2 separate regions of the Homo sapiens genome follow, and region 1 is linked to region 2. Evidence: fine-mapped expression QTL. A gene starts in region 2. The other region holds a variant in brackets. All regions are shown on one strand. Distances are from middle to middle.

What was found.
Region 1: its variant is fine-mapped to the expression of ANKRD44 in whole blood (INTERVAL, PIP above 0.99).

What each region holds. Positions count from the first base shown.
Region 1 is chr2:196,983,908-196,995,595 of GRCh38, reverse strand. It overlaps ANKRD44 (ankyrin repeat domain 44), which reads left to right. Exons shown (of 28, transcript NM_001195144.2): 26 at 135-217; 27 at 1,922-2,013; 28 at 5,947-8,934. The coding sequence ends at 6,005. Among named protein-coding and RNA genes, the nearest start is that of PGAP1, 63 kb to the right of the region's middle. The variant A/GTA (reference allele first, on the strand shown) is at 6,087.
Region 2 is chr2:197,306,288-197,317,975 of GRCh38, reverse strand. ANKRD44 (ankyrin repeat domain 44) reads left to right here and starts at 7,196. Exons shown (of 28, transcript NM_001195144.2): 1 at 7,196-7,398. The coding sequence starts at 7,372. ANKRD44-DT (ANKRD44 divergent transcript) reads right to left here and starts at 6,910. Exons shown (of 4, transcript XR_923750.3): 1 at 5,278-6,910; 2 at 3,659-3,787; 3 at 3,492-3,507. RefSeq lists silencers at 6,881-6,960, 6,971-7,290, 7,341-7,720 and enhancers at 7,844-8,345, 8,797-8,856, 9,787-9,836, 10,417-10,496, 10,537-10,586.

The DNA.
Region 1 (11,688 bases), 320 kb after region 2:
ACTCAGAAAATAGCCCTATAGAATGTTCTTAGGCAGACGACATTCATTTTCAATTTAAATCATAATGAAGAAATTTCTCAGTAACTTTTCTGTGTCTCTATCTTGCATTTCTTATCATTCTTTTTCTTTATTAGGGTCATGAAAAATGTGCCTTGTTAATACTTGACAAGATACAAGACGAGAGCCTTATTAATGAAAAAAATAATGCACTGCAGACGTAAGTGTAACTACTAAAGTTGGACTTGAACCCAGGGTCATAGTCATTTATTCAATAAGTATTAAGAGCCTGCTGTGTGCCAGACTAGCTCTGGGGAGCACAGTGGTGAAAGATGCAGTCCTGGCTTCCCCTGCATGAAGGTGACAGTCACATACCTACAAGTGCTGACCAAGCTGGGCAGTTTTAGTTAGAATCCTTCTTTTGATATGTCTTCATTTAATTTTGTGAAGTCTCTCTTTTTCTTTGCTGATATTTCTGGGGTAATATTATAAATTTAGTGGGCTGTTAGAAAAATTTTATGGACTGACATATTTGGGGAAACTATTTGTATTATGTATTAGCATTATGTATTCTGACTGGAAAATGACAGTTTTGCAAATCAGTTTCCCAGAATACATTTGAAGAGTTTCTAAGCTATTTGTCTTGATTATATTTTAATATAATTCAGTGTAACCCTTGGTGTGAAAGATCTAAAAGCTGTTTCATTTTCCGCTTTAGGAAATTATTTATGCATTTGTTTTAAAGGCAAAGGAATTTTTTTCATTTAAGATTCTTAAGCCGGGCGTGGTGGCTCATGCCTTTAATCCCAGCACTTTGGGAGGCCGAGGCAGTTGGATTACTTGAGGCCAGGAGTTCATGACCCGCCTGGCCAACATGGTGAAACCCCGTCTCTACTAAAAATACAACAACAACAAAATTAGCTGGGCATGATGGTGGGTGCCTGTAACCTCAGCTACTTGGGAGGCTGAGGCAGGAGAATCACTTGAACCTGGGAGGTGGAGGTTGCTGTGAGCTGAGATCGTGCCACTGCACCACTCCAGCCTGGGCAACAAGAGCGAGACTGTCCCCCCACAAAAAAAAAAGAAAAGAAGAAGAAGAAGAAGAAGACTGTTGGCTGGGTGTCGTGGCTCATGCCTATAATCCCGGCACTTTGGGAGGCTGAGGCAAGTAGATCACTTGAGCCCGGGAGTTTGAGACCAGCCTGGCCAACATGATGAAACCCCTTCTCTACAAAAAATAAAAAAATTAGCCAGCCACAGTGGTTTGCACCTGTAGTCCCAGCTACACAGGAGACTGAGGCAGGAGAATCACTTGAGCCCAGCAGAAGGTCAAGGCTGCAGTGAGCTGTGATCGTGCCACTGCACTCCAGCCTGGGTGACAGAGTGAGACCCTGTCTCAAAAAAAAAGAAAAAGATTCTTAAGCAGTATATAGCACAATATACTGAGTTTGACATAATTCTTTAAGGTATTATAAATTCAGTAAAACATCTGTGTGCATTTAGTAGTAACAAGGAAGTTTGAAATTATACATATATATGACTGATATTAATGCCAGTCATATTGTTGAACTGTGTGAAACAGTGATTCAAATGCTGTGTTAGAAATCAAGCAGTAAAGGGCCTTCTGCAAAACACAACAAAGCTTGAGTTCTTCCTCTGTCTTCGTATTTACTGTCATTGAGATTGTTTGAGATGCAGAATATTTGTAATATCTGCAGCAAGATCTGGGCCAAACATACAACAACAGTTGGACCATTAGCACCTGGAAAAGATCTGGTCAGCATTTTTTTTTCTTAAGTAAAAACATCCATGTACTATTTGTAGAGTCTAAGTACTTCTTCCTTTTAGTGACATGGGCTAACAAAAATTCCACATTCTCACCCAAATATGTATCACAACTGATGCTCGGTCTTGTGTTTTTTAGACCCCTCCACGTCGCTGCGCGCAATGGCTTAAAGGTGGTAGTTGAGGAGTTGCTGGCCAAAGGGGCCTGTGTACTTGCTGTAGATGAAAATGGTAAGTGGAAAAAGTCAACAGCGACTGCAGGTACCTTCCATAAGCTAGTTGAAGCCAGAGGAAATGAGAAAGATAGGAGCTAGTATAAAAGGCACTTAAGAATTCTGTCCCCCTTGGAAGTCCTGTGTGTGAGAAATCAAGCAAGGATAACTTGTCCTGTCTGTCTTTTTGTAAATCACATAGTCTACCTGTAGGCCACCCAGTGCTGTCCATTTTGCATGTAATGCCAGCAGCTGGTCTCTAACTCCTCAGCACAGTGGTTAAAATATCTTAGACACACTAAGAGTTTCAAGTTGACACTCAAAATTTTAACTGCAAATGCTGAAGAGTTAGGGACTACACATGTCATTAATGCATGCTCAAGGGCTCAAATAAAAACCTGGATCTTTGATTGTATTTAAGTTCATTCTGAGATCAAACTTTTTTTTTCTTTAAGTACAGATCAGAACTCATATTCCCAGTATGGAAATGTGAGGAACAAGAGTAAAATTTCTTAATTAACGTCTAGGCTTGAAGCTTCCCCTGATCTGTATTAATGTTCCTTTCCTAATGAACTAATTCTTAACAGAAGCTTTCTACTCTGCTTCCTAAGAAATTTTGAAAGGAATGGCTACTAGAATTGTACTAAACTGCCATTTTAAGCACAATGCCTATTAACCTTGGGGAGCAAAAAAGGAACTTCTGGATGTTTATGAATTATGTAATTTTTAAAATGTGGCATTTAATTAAAGTATTATAATGTATTAATGTAACTCAATTAACTGCTTATTACAGGTATTGGAATTAGCAGCTCATGCCTATTTCTCAGAAGTAAGCAGCCATACTGATTATCATTAGCTAACTCTTATTAGTTTTGATTTTGCAGCCCCATGTATCCTAGCATGTACCCTGCTGTGTCCCCCACCTGACTCATCTAGGAAGTGCAGAAAGTTCCCTATTACTCCATTTCCTTGGTTTTCCCGCCTCACCTTCCCTCACCCTCTTAACACTACTGTAGACTTAGGGTTGGCCTGCAGAGGCCCACAGTTTTTCTCCAAAATGGTCAAAGAGAATAGAATAAATTAGTTTTGCTTTTCCTGGTGTAAATCTGCTGCATTGAAGGTTTGTTCAGCTGATAGTGACCTTAGGAACAAGAGCCCTGGGTTGGTGCGCACCTGCATCCCAAAGGCCTGGGAACGTTTGGGGCAATTTTATATAGCAGTACAACCATAATTCCTTTACTCATCACTGACTTTCGTGAAATGGAATGTTAAACTACCTGTTCATTCTTATTTGTTTTCATACCAGAAAAAGGAATGATGTCCTAAAGGGCAGGGTGGGGAGAGCAGGTCGAGTGATGATAAACAAAACAACAAAACGTTAAGTTTCATTGAGCCATTCCTCTGAATTACTGAGCAAGTGCCCTACTCACTGTGTAGTGGAAACTTTGGCCAGCTGAGAAGGCAGCTAACCCTTTTCAGGCCAGTAGGATAAAGGTTGGATAAGGAAATAATCAAGTCAAAGACTTAATCTACCTCCCCAAGGAACCTATATTATGAGTTAAGACAGTTTTCTTATCTGGATTGGATCCATTGAGTCTAAATGAGAATAACATGGTTCTAATTATGACAAGCATAGTAATTTTCTCACATCCATTACATTTTAGATTTGAGACTTTGATTGGTGAGTGGCCATTTTTAAATATTCTGTTAGGCCAGGTGTGATGGCTCACGCCTTTAATCCCAGGACTTTGGGAAGCCAAGGTGGGAGGATCGCTTGAGCCCAGGAGTTTGAGAACAGCCTGGGAAACATAGCAAGACCTTGACTCAAAAAAAAAAAACCAAAAAAAGAAAAAATCAGCCGGTAGTAGTGGCACACACCTATAGTCCCAGCTACTCGGGAGGCTGAGGTGGGAGGATTGCTTGAGCCCGGAAGACAAGGCTGTAGTAAAATCAAGGCCCCATGCCACTACAATCCAGCCTGGGTGACAGAGTGAAACTCTGTCAAAAAAAAAATTTGTTAAATTTCTCCTAAATGATTGTACATTTTTAATCACAAACAACCTGTGCTTTCCTGTCTCTGATCTACTGAAATGATTCCATTTTTCTAAAACCAGTTATTGGTGTCTATTTTCTATGAAGCATATATAAAGTGACAAAACTTCATTACTCACTTTTGCAGTCATCTAATTTTCAATATCTTTTCTAATTGGACACACAATTACCTAACAATGGAAAGTCATTGTTCTCAGAATGAGAGTCCTTCTCAGGCCCAGGCCTGAGGCTCATGGTGTGTGTGTGCTCTCAGGCGGAAACATCCTCCTGATTGTCCTGTTGCTGTTTATTGTGGAATTGTGTCCCACACCCACCCCCTTGTGTTTGTGTTCACTAAATGAAGGCTGGAATCCTGCCTAACTTTGGATGATATTGTGCTTGTCATAGTCATATGAGCTGAAAACAAAAATAAAAAGCCCTCCATAAAATGTCTCCCCCTCCCTCCCCCTCTAGCCTCACCCCTAGCATGACTTGTGAGAAGTAACTCCTCGTTTTACCTGGCATGATTTCTAACTCAACATACATCTCCGCCTGTGAGATCATCCGAGATGTACTGTGGAATGCTCGTGCCTCCTCTAGGCTCCCCAGGACTAACCACTGCCTTGTCTGCATTTACGCCCAGGTCATACCCCGGCCCTGGCTTGCGCTCCTAACAAAGACGTGGCTGACTGCCTGGCCCTCATTTTGGCTACCATGATGCCTTTTTCTCCTTCCAGTACAATGATGGCTGTCAACTTCGTTTGTTTAAAAAAAGACAATTTGAGCAGGACGACCCTCTCCAATCTGGGTAGCATGGTTAGCCTGTGCAGTAACAACGTAGGCTCGGAGGATGGGTACAATGAAAATGATTCTGATTCGGAAACGTTTTGACTTTGGACTGTAGAAGCTTTTCTTTGATCACCTGTGTTGGAGGAAAGGAAAGAAGCTTGAATTCCAGGTTTATGTTGTATTCAAGTATTATTTGGGGCCTGGGCTTCCAGAAGCTAGTAGAGAAGGAATTAATCGAGGGAGGGCAGTGAGGCTGTTGGGTGGAACAGTCACACAGATGGCCCCAGTTTTGTTTTGTTTCACATTTTCTTTAAATCTAAGATACTTCTGTGAAAGTCTACCTCTCATTTTAAATAAAGAATAAAAGATGTATTTAATTCCTGTTCTTTGGGGATAATGCAGCAGAGAGGCAGCTGTTCGCTATGAATAATTTTTCTTTTCATGTATTTAGCAGTGAGTTCTCAGAAGTATATCAGTGTGACATTCATGTCCCCTGGGAGGGAAGGGAAGAGGCAGATAGGAAATGCCTCAAACTTCTTCTCACTTTGATGTTTACTTCCTCACTAGAAGCCAAAGGTAAAGGTGTCCATCTTCAGAAATAATGCCTGTAATAATCTTTTTAGAGAGTCCAACTATTTATATCCTCTCTATAGTAAGCATTTGAATATCCAGAACTTCTTTCTGAGGATCTCTGTTAAAGTTGCCAGATGAATTGAAAAATTGAACTTGCTTTTTTTGTTTAACACAGTGTTCCCTATAACAAGCCTGTGACTAATTTTCACTTAAGTGATTGAACCCAAATTTATCTAATAACATTTCAGGTGAAAATTATATTGCACCAAAACTTTGACACAATATGCAAAAATAGTATGAAACTACCCTTTGTTAATTTATTCTTAAATCAAAATACTAACTTTTAAAAAACATCAGAATCATCAGCATTGTTCATCAGTAGTAAAATGAGCTTCTCAGTCAAGGTCATACCAAGTCAGTGAAAAGTGTGACTGCAAAAAGGAACAAAAAAAGTGAAAGCAGAAAGTAGAAATGGGTGATTTAGCATGTAAAACCGATTGCCAGTTGCTTGATGATGAAATCAACATAGTGAATACTGTGTCTGCTCCCTCTGCCAAAGCTTCTAGGTCAAATGGACCCCGTTCCACACCTGGAACCGCTGTACAAAAAGAAGAATGAGACTCTTTAAAAATTATGCACATACACATGCACACATATATGTGTGCGTGTGTATATATATATATATGTGTGTGTGTGTGT[A/GTA]GTTCATCAGCCAGCTACACATGAGGACCAAAATGCTTCAGTCTAAAATGGAAGATACACATTTTTTTCCTTCAAAATGCAAGTGAGAACTGAAGTAGCTTTTTTATGGAGTTAAATGTAATCTTTCTGTGTACCAGTCTTTGTTGTATTTTATATTTCTTAGGACACAGATTTCTAGTTGACCACTTAACATTTGTAACTGATGATGTGCTGACCTTTTTTTTTTTTTTTGCCAAACTAGAGAAAATGTCCATATACTTTTGCTGTAAATGTGTTTATATTTATTTGAAATGAAACAAATGGTGAGGAAACATCCATTATTTGTTCTCTATTTTAATTGCTATGTATCTTATTTAGAATAACAAAAAAAAAGTGAAAAAAAAAACACTTGACCCTGGGCTAGCCAAAAGCCCAAGGGCCAAACCTAGCATTTCCACTGCTAAGGTTTCCAGATGACCCTCAGGTTCTTCCGCGTTGGTTAGAGAGGGCTACGCATCTTCTACTGCTCAGCCACAGTCTGTAGCCAGCTTAGAGCTTAGAAGACATTGCAGTCTGGATGCCCTTCTGCGAGATGAAAACTCAGATGTGTAGTGGATCATATACACAAAGGCAGCACAAAGAAATATCTAGAAATTACCCTAAGTACACTGAAAAGCTCACATAGTCTCAGTAACCTGATGAGAAATGATGGCAGTGTGTGGGCACATGTGCCAAAAGGAGAAATAAAAATCACCAGCTCAAGTGCTATTTTCTACTTGAGGAAGAGACAGAAAAGAAATGTGTCGAATTAGAGCAGTACTCTCTGACGTTTTATAATGAGTTCCATTTCCACCCTGGAAATTGCTATTTTATAGTGTATGTGAGATATTTCAAAAATAATGTTCTATCATATCTGGATCAAAGACAGATAACTGTATTATATTTTTCATCTAGCTATAAAACTTTAATCTTACTCTTAATATCCTGGATTTAATTAAAACTCCTGTTGGGTTCTTCACAAATGAGAACTTGTTCAAAGGATTTATTGAACTGGTATTGATTTCACTGAAAATTTTCCACACCACCACCATTGTTTTTTTGAATTCTTGGTGTTGTGCTTCCCACCTTCTGTCCTTTTCGTTTGTTTAGAGAAGATGAATTTTTAAAAAGCAGATAAATTGCTAATGAGCAATAATGACCTTATCTTTACCAAAACACTGAAAATTAAGAGAGGTTCAGTGTTGAAGAAGCACAATATGCTGCGGTGTCTTTTTCTAGAAGTGAATGGAAATCTTGCTCAGTTGGCATTTCAAGCAGGAAATGAAATGCTTGCTTTAATGGCAAAGCAGCGTTAACATTTTTCCTGTCGTGTAGCAGAGAGTACAAGAATCATTTCAGCAAAGCAGTGACTCACCATGAGACGTTATCTCCATGGAGCTGCGTTTTGACTTTTCCCACTCTCTTACTCATAGAAGGAGGACAAAGGAACGAAATGAAATCATGCTCACAATGAACTGTTCATTACATCAACTGATCTCTCTCTCTCTCTCTTCCTCTCTTTCTCTTTCTCCCATACCCCAAGGCAAAATTTTTTTAAAGAAATGACTTTAAAAACTATCATTTCTGTATTTTAATTACATCTCTTAGAAATAAAATTATGTTTGCACCATAGCTTTCTAAGAAAAAAAAATGTGTTTTTAACTGAGTCTTAGTTGCTTAGTGCTTTTATTTGTGTTATTTTTAGACTGTATTTTAACCACAACTACAAGGATCATGTTTCATTGCACTTACTTATTTGCCAGTGTCTGCCTGTCTTTGCTAAATACATTACTATCTCCAAATTGCCTAAAATCTGCTATGATTCTACAGTAAATAGCTCAGGGTATTTCTATTTATCACTACTAAAAGGGCACCATAGTATGTTTTGGTACTTTAGGCAGTAAACACTGCTTGGTTTATCATTTTGTTATTAAATTAGAACAAGAACATCAAATGGATTTGCTGCACTAGTTATTCTTTGTACTGTTGAGCAACTTGGTGTGCTTATATGTTGTGTTGGTTGAAGAACTCATCCGTTTTATTGTCTTGTAATATGAAGTTAGAGTGCCTTTTTATATTTGTATATTCTGAAAATGTTCTGTGGAATGTTTTGTATTTTTTCATTTGAGTGTTATCAGAGCAATATGATACCAGTGAGTTTTCATTTCAACTTTTCTTTGAATGTATAAAGTGTCTTTTTTCCTATTTCCCCTTGTACTTGCATTGAAATGAATATGAAAATGCTTAAGTTTTCTATAGGAATTGTTTGATTTTGCAGTGCTAAAATGCTTTCGTCTTACGAAACTATAAACCATAGGTCAGTATTATAGGGGAAAAGCATTTTAAGATAGTGACAATCTGAGTGTTTGTATAAAATGTAATTCTATGCGTTTCTTATGTGATCTAAAAATTCAATGCAAATATCTTTTATTTGGTAGTTTTGTCTACATATTTTATGCTCTAGCATGTGCAATATATCTTTGTAAAGCACGATGATACAAATCTGGTGCCAGTGTTATATTTTGCATAACATATTTGTAACAGCATAAAATATTGTTTGATGATTTCAGTGGGATTTTGTCTATAATGTTTTCTTATGTAAATTGGAGTTGAATGACTCTGGTAAATGTCATGACTGTAAAAATGGGGAAAATGACTTTTAGTTCAGTGAATGACTTTGAAACAATCTGAATCTTCTCAAGCACAGTTTAATACTTTTGCAACTACTGAATGCTCTAATAACGTAATGAAGTACTTAACTGTAATATACTATGGAAATGCATTCAGATGGTTATTTTTACAAATAAAAACGGTACAAATATTGTTGGAATTTGTGTTTTAATTTTTCCAATTTATGCTTTTTCTAAATTATGCTAATTTAAATCTTTGCACCCCCTCAAGCCAAATTAACTTTAAATTTAGAAAATAATCAAGATAAAAGTGTATCTCCAGATTCACGATTTATGTTTGTGTTATCACAATTAGAGAAAAAATTCAAACATATATGCTTGTGTTTATTATATGTATTTATGCTTCCAACTTTTTTCCATAAAGGGTTTTGTTTTGTTTTGTTTTGTTTTGTTTTTTTCTGCTCTGTTGTCCAGGCTGATGGGCAGTTGTGAGATCTCGGCTCACTGCAGCCTCGACCTCCTGGGCTGAAGTAATCTTCCTACCTCAGCCTCCCGAGTAGCTGGGACTACAGATGTGCACCACTATGCCTAGCTAATTTTGTTTTTTTGTAGAGATGGGGTCTCACTATATTGCCCAGGCTGGCCCATAAAGGATTTGAGCTGGGTTATGACAAAAGACGTGATAAACTAGAAATAGAAAAATGAGAACAGAGAAAAAGAATACAAACAGATAAAGGAACCATAAAATTTAAAACAGTATCTGTGACTGAACTTGTGTTTGCTCTCAGCTTCCTTGCAGCCAAGGTAAGAGGAGAAATGTGATCAGTTATATAGTCCACATCAAAAAAGAGGAAGCTTATTAGGTCCTCAAAATTGTGAAATCAACCATGCCTAACTTTGGTATTGTCACCATTACCCTTCAGGGACTTTATAACAACACAAGAACCTCCATCTCTGCACTATCCTTAAAGGTATCCATAGAATTTCCTTCCCCATCTATCTCACCATCCAAAATTTTTCATCTTGAGTAGTAACTTCAGGGACAGTCTCTGGAAGCACTAAGGAACAAATTCCTAATGATGGAGTTTCCAGCTATTGACGAAGAGACTTGGGGGTGGTGCCTGCCTGAGTTCCCCAAATCAAGTAGTATAGAATGTTAGCAGTTATTACAGTCCAGCCCAGTCACATCACCAGCTCTTTCAGGAAGAAACTGAATCCTAGAGAAGTTATACAACTTGAATTTTTGAAGATAGTGATCTGATGATACCACATCTGCCTCTAGATGTTCTCTCTTCGATGCCATCTTGCCATATAATGTTTTGTTTTTTTCTGCCAGAAATGTTAAGGGAGGTTTTGTACTCAGCCCTGCCTCCCTTCTTATTCAAATATACAAATCTGGGTGCTTTTCAATCTTAAAGAATGTAAAACAGGAGTCACACCACAAGTGAGTGCTTCCTGTTGTTTAGAGTAGACTGGGTATATTAGTTATCTATTGCTGTGTAACAAATTACCCCAAAACTTAGTGGCTTAAAACAACAAATGTTTCCTAACCCACAGTTTCTATGAGTCAGCCCTAGTTTAGCTGGGTCTTCTGTTCCAGGGTCTCTCACAGCCTGTAATCATGGTGTTGGCCTGGGAACGATCCATTTCTAAGTTCACTCATATGGTTGTTGGCAGGATTCTTCTCATGGGTTGTTACACTGAGGGCCTCAGTTCCTTGATGGCTGTTGGCTGCCGTCCGTTCCTTGCCAGATGGGCCTTCCCATAGGGAAGCTCACAACATGGCAGCTTGCCTTGCGGGCGAGCAGGCTGAGAAAAGCCAGGGAGACAAAGAGCAAGACAGAGTCACAGATTTTTGCAACTGAATTTCAGAAGTGATATTTCATCATTTTTCTCATATTCTATTCATGAGAAGCAAGTTACTAAGTCCAATCTATACTCAAGGGCAAGGGATTCCCCAAGGGTGTGAACAGCAGGAACAGCAATTACTAGGAGCCATTTTTGGAAGCTACTCGCCACCCTGGTCTATCACGGTGTCCTTTGAGGCTGTAACATCATACTAATACACCTTCTTCCCAGTCATTGCTAAGGAAATTGCTTGCTTGACTGACTGAACTCACCCTTTCAAGGAAAATGTAGAGATCCCTAATTTTAATTGTGTTCTCATAAGCAGAGAAATGTGATAATGGCCTCCACTGTGGTAATTATATTTTTGAACATTGATGTGGCACTTTGTCTTCAAACTGCTTGTCAAAGGTTCCTTCACGCTAATTCCATTTGGTAGGTTTAGATCCCTGTATAAGTATCCCTCACTTAACACACTTAATGTGTTCCAGAATTAGTTTGCAAAGCACAAAAGCATTAAGCTAAAAGGCTATTAACATAAAAACATTGTGGGTAAAAGTACTATATGAATTGTCTCTTTAGCAAATTTCATCCTGAAGGTACATTTGCTGTAAAATATAAAGCACCAAGATAATGGCTGTGCCATTCATTAATTCTCAGGCACTCTAGGGAGTGATTGGAAATGTGTGGGCATTTGTAGTTGGCACAATGGCTGGGGGGTGGGCAGGGCTGCTACTAGAGTATTTATAGTTCCAAGCGCCAGGGAGACCAAATGTGCCACTCAACCCAGGGAATAACTGCGCCACTTAGAATGTCAATGCTCCTCTACCCCACTGCTCACCTATTTGCCTTTCTCTTGTTTCTGAATCATTTCTTCATCAATGTATTGCTTATGACACTAGCCATATTGCCTCATCTATTTTCACAAGGGATTGCATAAACATACTTTATATGCCCTCAGAACGAGAACTTACAAGGTTGAGAAAGAACTTTGGAAGGCAATGCTGAGCACATGTGCCCTGGTTATGTATTTTTCCAGGGGAGAAGATTTGCACAGATCAAGGCATCTTTAATTCCTTTGTTATCAAACCAAAATGTGGCCATACACA
Region 2 (11,688 bases):
GGAAAAGGTTAGTTATTAGAACGAAAAGCTTGGAAGAGAGGCCCTTTTCTTCTCTTCATATCTTCACTCCTGAAGGGTCTGAATCCATTTTTTAATCCTTTTAAAAAATTATAGTAGCTTCCATCAACTTTTATTATAGGATATGGAAGTGCTAAGGGGTACCACAGAAAATCCAGAACATAGTCCTTCCTGTCCCAATCGTCCTCCCTGTCCCCATCGTCCTCCCTGTTCCCACTGTGTTGTAGCAAACCAATTTCCTCTTGATAATGGGAATCAGTAACCCCACCCAGAAAGGTAACCCCTGCTTTTCCTGTTGTTTCCATAGCATGTGGAACCGAAAGTGGACACATCCCAGTCTTAGCTTCTAATTCAATGAAACCATAATTGTGATCCCTGGTGGGAACCCTCCCTTGGGAAGCAACACCCCCAAACCAGCAGAGCTCAAAGCAAAACAGGCACTGGAAGCAAAAACTGTATGAGTGGATTATTGGGTGTAATGATGAAAAGAACCACTTCTACTACAACCACCACTCCCTTCTCCCTCCCAGCCCCACCCTTGATTCTTGGACCTTGTATTTTGGGGGAAGCAGTACTATGTACTGACTCCTGACTCAAAGCATTTTCTGTGTCCTCCAAGAGGTAACTTCACTATGTTAGTGTGGTGTTTCCCAGCTGGTGCTGGAACTCAGTCTTCAGTAGAACTCCATCATCCTTCCAGGTGAGCTGCTTCTGGCTGATGAGGTATTGATAAGACTGGTAAATTCCATTTACATGAGTCCTTTGCTGCATTTCTTTTGCCATGAGATGAGTTCCTCAGAAAGAAGTAATATTGTGTAGACTATATAACAGTGAGTAAGATACAACATAAGTCATGGATGGTAGTTCTGTCAGAAACACTCTCTGGGCCGGGCATGGTGGCTTATGCCTGTAATTCCCGCACTTTGGGAGGCGGAGCAGGCAGATTACCTAAGGTGAGGAGTTCTGAGACCAGCCTGGTCAACATGGTGAAACCCCATCTCTACTAAAAATGTAAAAATTAGCCAGGTGTGGTGGCGCATGCCTGTAGTTCCAGCTACTTTGGAGGCTGAGGCAGGAGAATCACTTGAACCCCGGAGGTGGAGGTTGCAATGAGCCGAGATCATGCTACTGCACTCCAGCCTGGGCAACAGAGCCAGACTCCATCTCCAAAAAGAAAAGAAACACTCGCTGGGCACAAATCCATATCAGCTGGGCATGGAGGCTTACACCTATAATCCTAGCACTTTGGGAGGCTGAGATGGGTGGATCACTTGAGGCCAGGGGTTGAGACCAGCCTAGTCAACATGATGAAACCCTGTCTCTACTAAAAGTACAAAAATTAGCTGGGCGTAGTGGCACACTCCTGTGATCCCAGCTATGCAGGATGCTGAGGTGCGAGAATCGCTTGAATCTGGGAGGCAGTGATTGCAGTGAGCTGAGATCACGCCACTGCACTCCAGCCTGGGCAACAGAGCAAGACCCTACCTGAAAAAAAAAAAAAAAACAAGAAAGGAAAAGAAAACAAATTCATATCCACAATATGTGTCTACTCTAGTGAAGACAAGTAACTGTTCCCTCCATGAAGGAAGGGTTCCAAAATAATCAATTTGCTACCACATGGCTGACTAGTCTCCCTTGGAAATGGTGCCTCTCAATGTGTGATTTCTGATGTTGTCAGATATCAGCCTTACTGCAGAGAAGCCTAAGATTTGAAGCCCAAACATAGTCTTTATTCCTGACTCCATGGCTACTTTGAGCAAGCACTGCAATAGGTGGAGAAAGAGGCCCACTCCACCGAATGTGTCATTCACCTAATTACTAAAAGCCTTCTCAGAGTAGATGCTCTGTGGTGAGCATTCACATGGCACACAAATTCCTCACACTTTGTGCCTATTCTGAAAGGTGCACCCACAAACCTCTTTCCCGGACCACCTCATCTTTCCAAGTTGCTGACCATTCAGCAAAACCATCAATAATTGCCTGTGAATGAGTGTAGATCTATACCTTTGACCGTCTCTCTCAATCCAGACAAAGTAGACCCTAGGTGCGCTGCTGGAAATTTCTTGCACTGAGAAAATTTCCCTTCAGTACTGTCATCGGGGGCATTCCTTATTGAGACTGTGATGCTGGAATAGACCACTTCCAGCTTGTGCCAGTATATTTAGGAGAACTGTCTGTAAATCAGTTAACTGGTCTTAAGAAATTCCCCATGAAGTTGAAGATAAGGAGGCACCAGGAGTAAGTATCAAAGGAATCTGAGCTACCTGCTAAGGCAACTTGTGCTTTCTGGACCTGCTTAAGCTCAGTCTCTTACATACCATTTCCATTTGATGAGGAATTCCTCTTGTGTATGTCTGGTCTTATGGATTGGTAGATTAGATTACACTCAGTTCATAATGGGCAGCTGAGCTTGCAGTCACTTGATTGTCTCATGGCCAGTCATTCAAATTCACTTAGCAAGCTAGGGACCATTCCTCAAATAGAAAATTGTTATCTGCAGAAGAGGGCATGACTTGCTCTACAACTAAGGAATTCTGCATTGTAGATCTAATCAGGGCTCACCAGAGGCTCTATATAGCATCCTTATTTGCCACAGACACTTTAAGTATCATTGGATTCCTCTGGGTCATCAAGTCCTGCTACAGATATTTCTTCTCCCCTTATTCCTAATAAAAAATTCCAGCCTTATGGGTTGCTCTATAAATGGGTCACAGCATCACACTCAGATGTGATACATATTGCCTCTAAAATCCAAGGATACCCAGAAAGTATTGTGTCTCTTTTCTTAGTGGTAGATGGTACAAGGTGAAGTAATTTGTCTTTTACGTTGGGGAGAATATCCTGGTGTTTTCTAGACCACTGGACCTCCAGAAACTTCACTAAGGTGATGAATTTTCTTGGGGTTTATACCCAATCTCTGGCTCACATGTGTGTTGTTAAGGCAGCTAAAATATTTGTTACTTCCTGTTTATCAGGGCCAGTCAGCTCGATGTCTTTAACATAGTGATCAAGACCTGTGCAGATGAGATTATGCCAGAGAGTGGGAGTGTTTACATCCCCTAGAGAAGACTGTAAAGGTGTACTGTTGATCTTGCCATATAAAAGAAAACAACTTTTGGTGAAAATTGAAATAGATAAAAAGCATTTGCCATATCAATAGTGCACACCAGGTGCCTAGGGCTGAGTTGCTTTGTTGCGGTAAAGACAGCATATATAGAATAGCAGCTGCAACTGACATTACCATTTGATTAAGTTTACAACTTAATAACAAATCATAGTTATTCTCTAAGATCTTTTGCATAGGCCCAACAGGTGAGTTAAATGGAGATGTGACAGTATTATCATTCCTGTATCTTCTACGTCTTTTCTGGTGGTACCAATTTCTACATATTTCCAGGGATTGAGCATTGTTGTTGGTTTTCTATTCTGGTATCAAGAGGAAATTCCAGAGGCTTCCATTTGGCCTGTCTTACCATAATAAACTTCACTCTGTGGGTCAGAGAAATGATGTTAGGATTCTGTTAGTTACTGAGTATGTCTATTCTAACTAACAGTTGAGGAGATAACTATAGTTTGGGTCTGCAGAGCTACTGGATCCACACTGATTTATACTTAGTTAAAAATTTCATTTATCACCTACCATAGATCCCCATTTTGATTGGTGGATCCAGTGGTGTTTGCAATCCTCAGGAATTAGCATTAATTCAGAAGCAGTGTCAGTGATCCCTCAAATGTCTGGGTATTTCCTTTTTCCCAGTACTCGCTCAGCCTAGAAAAATACATCAGGTTCCTTTGGATAAGGCTTGGATGAGGATTTGTAGTATATATTTATGACAATGCTGCAAGACCCTCCTGAAGGGGACCAGCTTCCCTTTTAATCAAGGAGCTCTGTGTCTGTGAACTCATTTAGGTACGGAAACTGAATGAAAGATAATTTCATTTTGATGGCTCAAGGGAGCTTTCAGGTGGCAGATGTAGAGTTTTGTCTGTTATAAAGATCAATGGCTATTTCCAAAGTCTGCCCGTCTATTTCATTCCTAGGACAACCTAGGGCACTGCCAGATATACCTGTAGGTTAAGACCTTTAAGTACTACTTTGTCTCTGCTGTCCATTACAGTAAATGTGTCCACCTTGTCTCTGCCAGCTAAGTGCTGCCACTTGGCCATTGCTGTCGCAGGATCCCACTAATATAAAAATCAAGGAGCCATCTCAACGAAAGCATCTCCCACCATCATATCCAGCTACTAGAGAGTTTTTCTGACGTTCTCTCTCGAATGTATTTTTCTTTCCTTTTCTTTTTTTTTCTTTTTGACAGAGTCTTGCTTTGTTGCCCAGGCTGGAGTGCAATGGCGCGTCATTGGCTCAGTGCAACCTCTGCCTCCTGGGTTCAAGCGACTCTCGTGACTCAGCCTCCCAAGTAGCTGGAACTACAGGTGCATGCCACCACGCCTGGCTAATTTTTTGTATTTTTAGTAGAGACGGGGTTTCACCATGTTAGCCAGGCTGGTCTGGAACTCCTGACCTCAGGTGATCCACCTGCTTCAGCCTCCCAAAGTGCTGGGATTATAGGCATAAGCCATGGTGCCTGGCCTGTATTTTTCAATGCTTCAGTATAAAGATCATCATCTGGCTCTCCAGGAATATGTAGGGGTTGGCTGTACAGATTATACATGATAAAATTATTCCAACATTCCCATCTCCACAAATCTTTGGATTTCTTTCTCTACATTATACCAGGGGCATTCTGGCTTCTCAAGCTCACCGAATATAGTCAACTGCTGAGTCTGAGTCTCATTTAATGAAGTAAACAAAGTGTTTGAATCACTGTCAAAGTACTGGCTAACACATTAAAAGCAGACCTTCTGATAAGTGTAGTCTTATCAATAAATTTTGCCAAATCTTCTGCTCCCTATTTTATTTGGAACTTGGCCACGAGTTGTTCAACCTTTCACAAAGTCAGGTCACCTATGACAACACCAATCTTGATATTTGAATTCCTAACACTATATGTTCACATCTGTCTGCATTTGTAATTCTCTCATTCACAAAGCCTCTCCATATAGGTGGAAGCATCTTACTGCTTTGTTTTGTCAGAAGACAAAGAGAGTTGTGTTTTACCACTTACCTACTGAAATACATATTCATTATAAATTACTCTCCTTTAATTTTTCCTTTATTGTACAATTAGGACAATATATTGTTGCTGGTTTTTTTTTTTTTGAAATTTGTATTGGTAGGTAATATTATCCACAAATTACCTTTCAGGATAGTAAGGGGAGTGTTAAAGATACTAGTTACAAAAAGAGGATGATGGTCTGATTGGGTGGAGAACTGCTGCCTCCTCACTTTGGCCCCAGGAACTTAGGTGCAGGCATGTCCGCGATGAATCAAATTGGATCTTGAGTGAATCTTCCAAATTAAGTCATTTGTTATCACTCTTCTGAAAGATGGCTCTATTTAAGTAGAGAATGCAGGGTCCTATTCAGTTTACTTACAAAGCCATGCAGGGTGTTCAGTAAATAGACATACCAATAACAGCAGTGAAGAACTGACTCATAGATGCAACATAAACAATCTGTTGTATGTCTGAGAAAGGCCTTAGAATTTTTTGTTTGTTTGTTTCCATGCAACATTGATAACAGAGGAGTGGAAGCCAGGAACAAAGTTCCTTGGTTCTTCTTGTCTGCATGATCTGAATTATAATCTATAAGACTAATAAAGGTAAATTTGAGATTTAGCTGCTTCGACAACCAGAGTGGCTGGATGGTAAATGTGAGGATATTAATGCTCCTTTCTCTCCTGTCTCATGTGGAATCTTTGGGGGAGGTTCTAAGAGTAGGGAGGAAGAATGGACATTTGGTTTGTGAATATACAGTAGAGGCAGATGTTTGGTCTTGACCAAAGAATTCTGTAGCTCTAGTTTGCTCTTCAAAGCTGTTCAATGCTGCCCTACAGGTTTGCTCTATGGCCTGCCAGGGGCACATGGGGCTGCCTGGGAGCACTTCCTCTCCACTTGCTTACTTAATTCTCCCTTCTCCAGATCTCAACTCCTGTCACTTTCTCAGGGAAGCCTGCCCTCACCCACCAGTCTGGTCTGATTCCTTTGTTGTGGGTTCACTTCAGAAGCATGTTTTCCCTTGAGATCCCTTATCTCAGTTTGTAATTACATTCATTAGCAGAGACTATGCGGTTTATGTTGGCATCTTCTGAGAGCAGGTTATCTTATTTATGCTCTCCGTTTATTCCCGTGCCTAGCCAGTGCCTGACAAGGTAGGGACTCAGTACATAGCTGTTCAATGAATAAGTGTTTGCTCCAAATTCCAGAACTATCAACAGCTACTATGCTTACGAATATGCCCGTTGTATCTGTAGCCCATGGTGTTTGACAGCTGTCTTCTATTTGTTGAAGAGCTTGGTAACTTGGGATTTTGTAGAGATCAGTAAGGACTGGTGGGAACACCCAAAAGACCCATCAACTCGGTGATTTAGGACTGCTTTGCTTCTCCAGGAACTCCACTCCACCCCCACCAGCAAAAACCAAACCCAGGGTGTTTGAATTTAACAATAGTATGTGTGTGTGCATATGTGTGTGTGTGTTTAGCTGGAAAGTGGCTGGAGAACAAGGTGGAAGGGCCAGAGCTTCTGTTCCCTCCACCCATAAATGTTTGGCAAACACCCTGTAAAGAATCACAATGTGTCCGCTGCCTCCTGGCATTAAACAAAGGGAGCATCATAATTGCGGTCCCTGGGATCTTCGGGGCGCTGCCACCACCTGATTCTGGGTTAGGGGAAGGGGGCGTAACCCCATCTCCCCGGTTAAAGTGGACGGCATGTGAGTGAGAGCCTTTCCTGCCCCCTCGGGGTGTGTCCCCGCGGGCTTCCCCACCCATATGTGTGAGACCCGTCAGGGAGGCCCGCGATCCGCCCAGGGCCCGGGGCCGGCCCGGCCGGGCGCCGCGTGCAGGTGCGGAAGGCAGGCGGCGGCCCGGTGCGGGCGCGGGGGCAGCGCCGGGGGCCGGGCTGCGCGGCTCGGCTGCGGGCGGCAGGAGGCAGCGTCGGCCCAGGCGGCGGGCGGCGAGCGAGCCAGCGCGCGGTGATGTCAGTGGCGGCCCGGCTGGCAGCAGCCGGTACTTCCTGTGGAAAGGCGGGCGGGCTCGGCTGCAAACCCCACTAGCCAGTGTCAGCCTCTCGGCGGGAGGAGGCGGCGGCGGAGGAGGAGCAGGGGGAGGGCTGTCAAATTCGGGAGCCAGATTTTTTCCCTTCTCCTGGCAATCCCTTCCGCTTCCCCGGCTCCCGGCGTGACATCTGCGGGCCGGGGACCTGCATGTGTGTGCGCGCGAAGGAGCGGAAGAATGGCAGTGCTCAAACTCACCGACCAGGTAGCGGGCGGCGGCGCCGGCGGGCGGGACGCGCGGGCGCGGGGCGGCGCGGAGCCCGGCGGGGGGATGGGGGCGCGGCTGGAGCGCGCCCGCGAGCTGTTTACTCGCGGCGAAGGGGAGGACTGTGTGCGGCCGCCGGTGCCTCCGAGAGCCCGCGGCGGCAGCTCCCCTCCGCCGCGCCGTCCCCGCCCTGGGCCGTCGGAACTGCGCGCCCGAGTCTGGGGCAGGGCCCGTGGGCGCTGGGCAGCCGGCGTGCGGGAGTGCGGCGGCCGCGGGCCCGGCGGGGCTGGGGAGGGGGCCGGGGGCTCGAGGTGCTCTCGGGACTCGCACCGCGCCGCGTTGCGTGGGCGCCGCCGGCCCGGGCCCCGGGGAGGAGGACGCTGCACGAAGAGGGAGAAAGGATCGCAGACTGGGACCCCTCCCCAAACCTAGCAGGAGTCCTGCCCAGAATGCGGCTCTTGTGTGGCCGGGCTGTCTTTATTTATCCGTTGGATGTGACATCCGACTTCCTCTTTAGTTGCGCCAGGCTGTGTGCGTGGTGCGGGATGGGGACCCCTGGAGACCGCCCTTTCGGATCGGGCCGGTCCCTCTGAGGAGGAGGTGAAGTCGGCTCGGAGCCTCCACTCACAGGCGGTGGGCTACGGTCTGCCTGTGTCTACCAGCTTTGTTGGCTTTCCTTGCTGAGACACCACACAGGGCAGCTCTGGAGTCCTGGCTTGGAGAGGTGGGGTTATTTGCTGAATCGGATTGACAGTCCTCGCCGCAGGTCTGTGGAATGGTAACAGCCACCTTCGCGGACTCTGCTGCTCTTACATTGACACTAACAGGCACCAAACCAAGTTGCATGACAAAACTCTTTGCAGCTCTTTCCACGAAAAAAGGAAACGGCTTGCTACCCCCACCCCCGTTTATTCGTGGGTAGTGAAAGGAACTTTGTTTTGGGGTCCTGGTAGGCAGAGAGGCAATCTTGACTTTGACTACAGGGTCAGACTTGCCAGCCCTTGGTATTAAATACCTCAAACTTGTCCATGGGTTGCATCTGCTGCCTTGCGTTCTCCAGTTAGTATCCAGCCAGAACATCTTGCAACTGAAGTGCAGTCCGTCACCACAATGATTTGCAATGATTTGTTCTCCTGCCTTTTAGATTCAATTTTTTTAGCTTGTTTTTCCTAAATATTTACAGGTGTTTGGCGGGGTTGGTGATGGGGAAATCACTGAGTTAAAATTCATGTTATTGTTAAATTTAGTAAGAAGAGCAGCTGGTACTTGTGATGAATGTATTTGTTCTCATTGGTTCCAGAGCATTTAAAAGTGTAAGTTGATATCAGGATTTCCTTCACCTTTTGGTCACATACTTTGCCAACTGTTAGACATTTGCGTATTTTAAATCCTACAGTTTTAGCGTGTCTTGGGCCTGTCATCTTTGCTAGTACACGTTGCTGTACTTGTCTGTTAATCCCTAGATCTTCAAAGTACAAAGAATGGTTCTAATAGGTATTGTTATCACATATAAGAAAGAACATCACATAGAAGTTTAGAGTTGTAAGGACTCTAAGGATGATCTAGCCCAAACCCTTCATTTTCTAAATGACAAAACAGATCTGGAGAAGTGAAGCAAGTCTTCCTCAAAGAATGCCAGCTATAGGCCTGCAGGACTGGGACTAGCTCTTGTCTTCTGCCTTCCAGGTGCTTGTACTTTCTGCTACAGTTGGTATAGGATAGCTCCATCATCTCATTGGATGTGTTGTAAGGGTTACAAGAAAACATCTCTTCCTAGATCAAGATCAACCCTAGTGAGAAGTGTATTACTTGGTCTTACAAAGAGAGGAAGTTATTCTTCAGGGCTTATCAGAGCAGGAATTTCAAAGATGTTGCCTTTTAAGATGTTTCCAAGTATATTTCCTTCCTTCCCCCAATAAACTAGTATGAGTATGGAGAGAAAGGAAGAGTCACACAACGTTTATTTGGTTCCATCTCCAGATACGTAAAAAGAACCTAAGGCGTTTTAAGATTCAAGAACTTCTGAAAATGTCCAGTCTATCTTGGGACAAAGTCAGAAGGAGATGGGGTGGGGAAGTGGCCTGGGTGGGGTGGGGTGGTGAACAACGATGGTTTCTGTGTAGCTTTAGGTCCAGGAAGTAAGTGTGTGGTCTTTCTTGCCTTATATAGTCTTACCTTTTCTGTTTGAGACTCAATTCTTAGAAGTCAGTTCTTAACCTCACAGATTAACTTTTAAAACCATTTGCTTAGACCACTACTAGAAGAGTTTTGCTCCATCATTGTGGGCAGGGAGCCGCCCGCCTGCTTGGAATCCCTGCCTTAGAGTTTGTACAGGAGTACCTTGCTCTCCATTCAGCTTCTAGTAAAACAACCACTTCTTAATTTCTCCCTCCTTTTTTTTTTTTGTGTGTGTGTGTGTGTGTGTCAGGGTCTCACTCTGACTCGATAGTATGATCATGGCTCACTACAGCCTTGGCCTGCCAGGCTCAAACATCCTCCCACTTCAGCCTCCCCAGTAGCTGGGACTATGGGCGCGTGTGCCACCACACCTGGCTAATTTTTGTATTTTTTGTAGACACAGAGTTTCGCCATGTTGCCCAGGCTGGTCTCAAACTCTTGGGCTCAAACAGTCCACCTGCCTCAGCCTCCCAAAGTGCTGGGATTACAGGCATGAGCCACTGTGCCTGGCACCTCATCTGTTGAATGCCCTATTTGTGAAGTGAATCTTGATTTTTGCTAGGCCTCTTGGATTTTTTACTGTTGATAACCTGAAACACAAATTGTCTGGATTTGTCTTTAAATGTGGCAAAAGTCAGGGGTGACAGATGATGACATTTTCTCTCCAGCTAAAGCTGGGTGCAGGAGCTTGCTAGGTGAAGCAGACACTACTTCAGCAGTCAGTCCTGTAGTGACCTCTCAATCTTGTAAGAGAAGGAAAATGTTTTTTCCTAACTCTTTTTTTTTCAGGAGAGTAAAAAGAAAAAGGGAGAGACCAGTGTAATTTTTAGTCTTTTTTTTTTTTTTTTCACTGTAAAAAAGGAACTGGGAGCTATCACTACAAACAAACAAACTTGGCATTTAGCACTTCTGCATTTGTAACTTTTGTAACAGTGTCCCTTCTGTTTTCCTCTTCACAGGGCACACATAATTTTTATTGCAGCCTTAGGGGGCACTAACCATCCTGGTTTGTGCAGATTGACTGGTGTCCCAGCATATGGGGCTAAAACCGGGAAAATTCCAGGCAAACTGGGAGGAACTGGTTACCCTGTGTAACATAGAACATCCTCAACTATGTCATTAATATAATAATGTAATTAGTTCCTTGTATGTGGACATTAGGAGTTTTATATTTTTTGGTAAAGTGAGATAATTTTAAGTTTGGGAAAGAAAATTTTGTTAAATACAGATCTAAGGCATTTGACTCAAAGATAGCCATGAAACCTTTTTGAAAATTGATTTGATATTGACTGTTTTAGGGTGTTCTTTATGTCATATAGTTAAAGGCACTGTAGTCATTTTAAGTGTGTGGTCGTATCTTCAGCCTGGATCTCTACCCGAAATTTATTTTCAGAGTTATGAAGCTAGGATGGTAAGTTCTGTTGCATGTTTAAAGTGTCCACTATTCTTACCTGCATTTGTTAATGATGGCAGAACACTACTTTCATCTCGGAGGCTGCCTGCAGACAAACTGTTTCAGCAGGTGGCCTTTTTGGAGCTTCCTGCCTGGAGGCCTTCTGGTTTGGTGTTCCCTTGCCAAGTCCTAGTTCACACTTGAGTCACCTACCTTCTTGCCAAAGGCAGTGGCTGGCAGCGGTGGCAGTGGCAAGAGACTAGAAATCCTGTGTAACTTTGGGAGCAGGATTTCTAGCCCATAGTGTGGGGCCTTGGGACGTGTTACATATTTTACTGGGCTGCCCTTGTTCTTCCATGGCTCCCTAGAGCACTGGTGTTAAAGCAAACAGTATGCTGTAGTCCTGTCTTCAGCATAGAAGAAGGGAAAAGAAAGGCTTTATTTAGAACCTTTTCTGGTTGTTTCAGGACCCAATCACATGGTTTTGAGAGTGCACTTGAGGCTGGTGTTTCATGGCAGAGACCTAATAATGTCACACATTTATTGTGCTCTTATTGTATACTGGGCCTTTGCAGTGAATCATGTCTTAATCCTCATAGCCACACTAGGAGGTAGGTGGTGGTGTGATTTCTATTTTATGGATGAGAAAACAGGAATAGAGAGGCTAATTGACCGGTTTAGGGTCATACGCCCAGTAAGTGATCTAGCACACTGTCCTA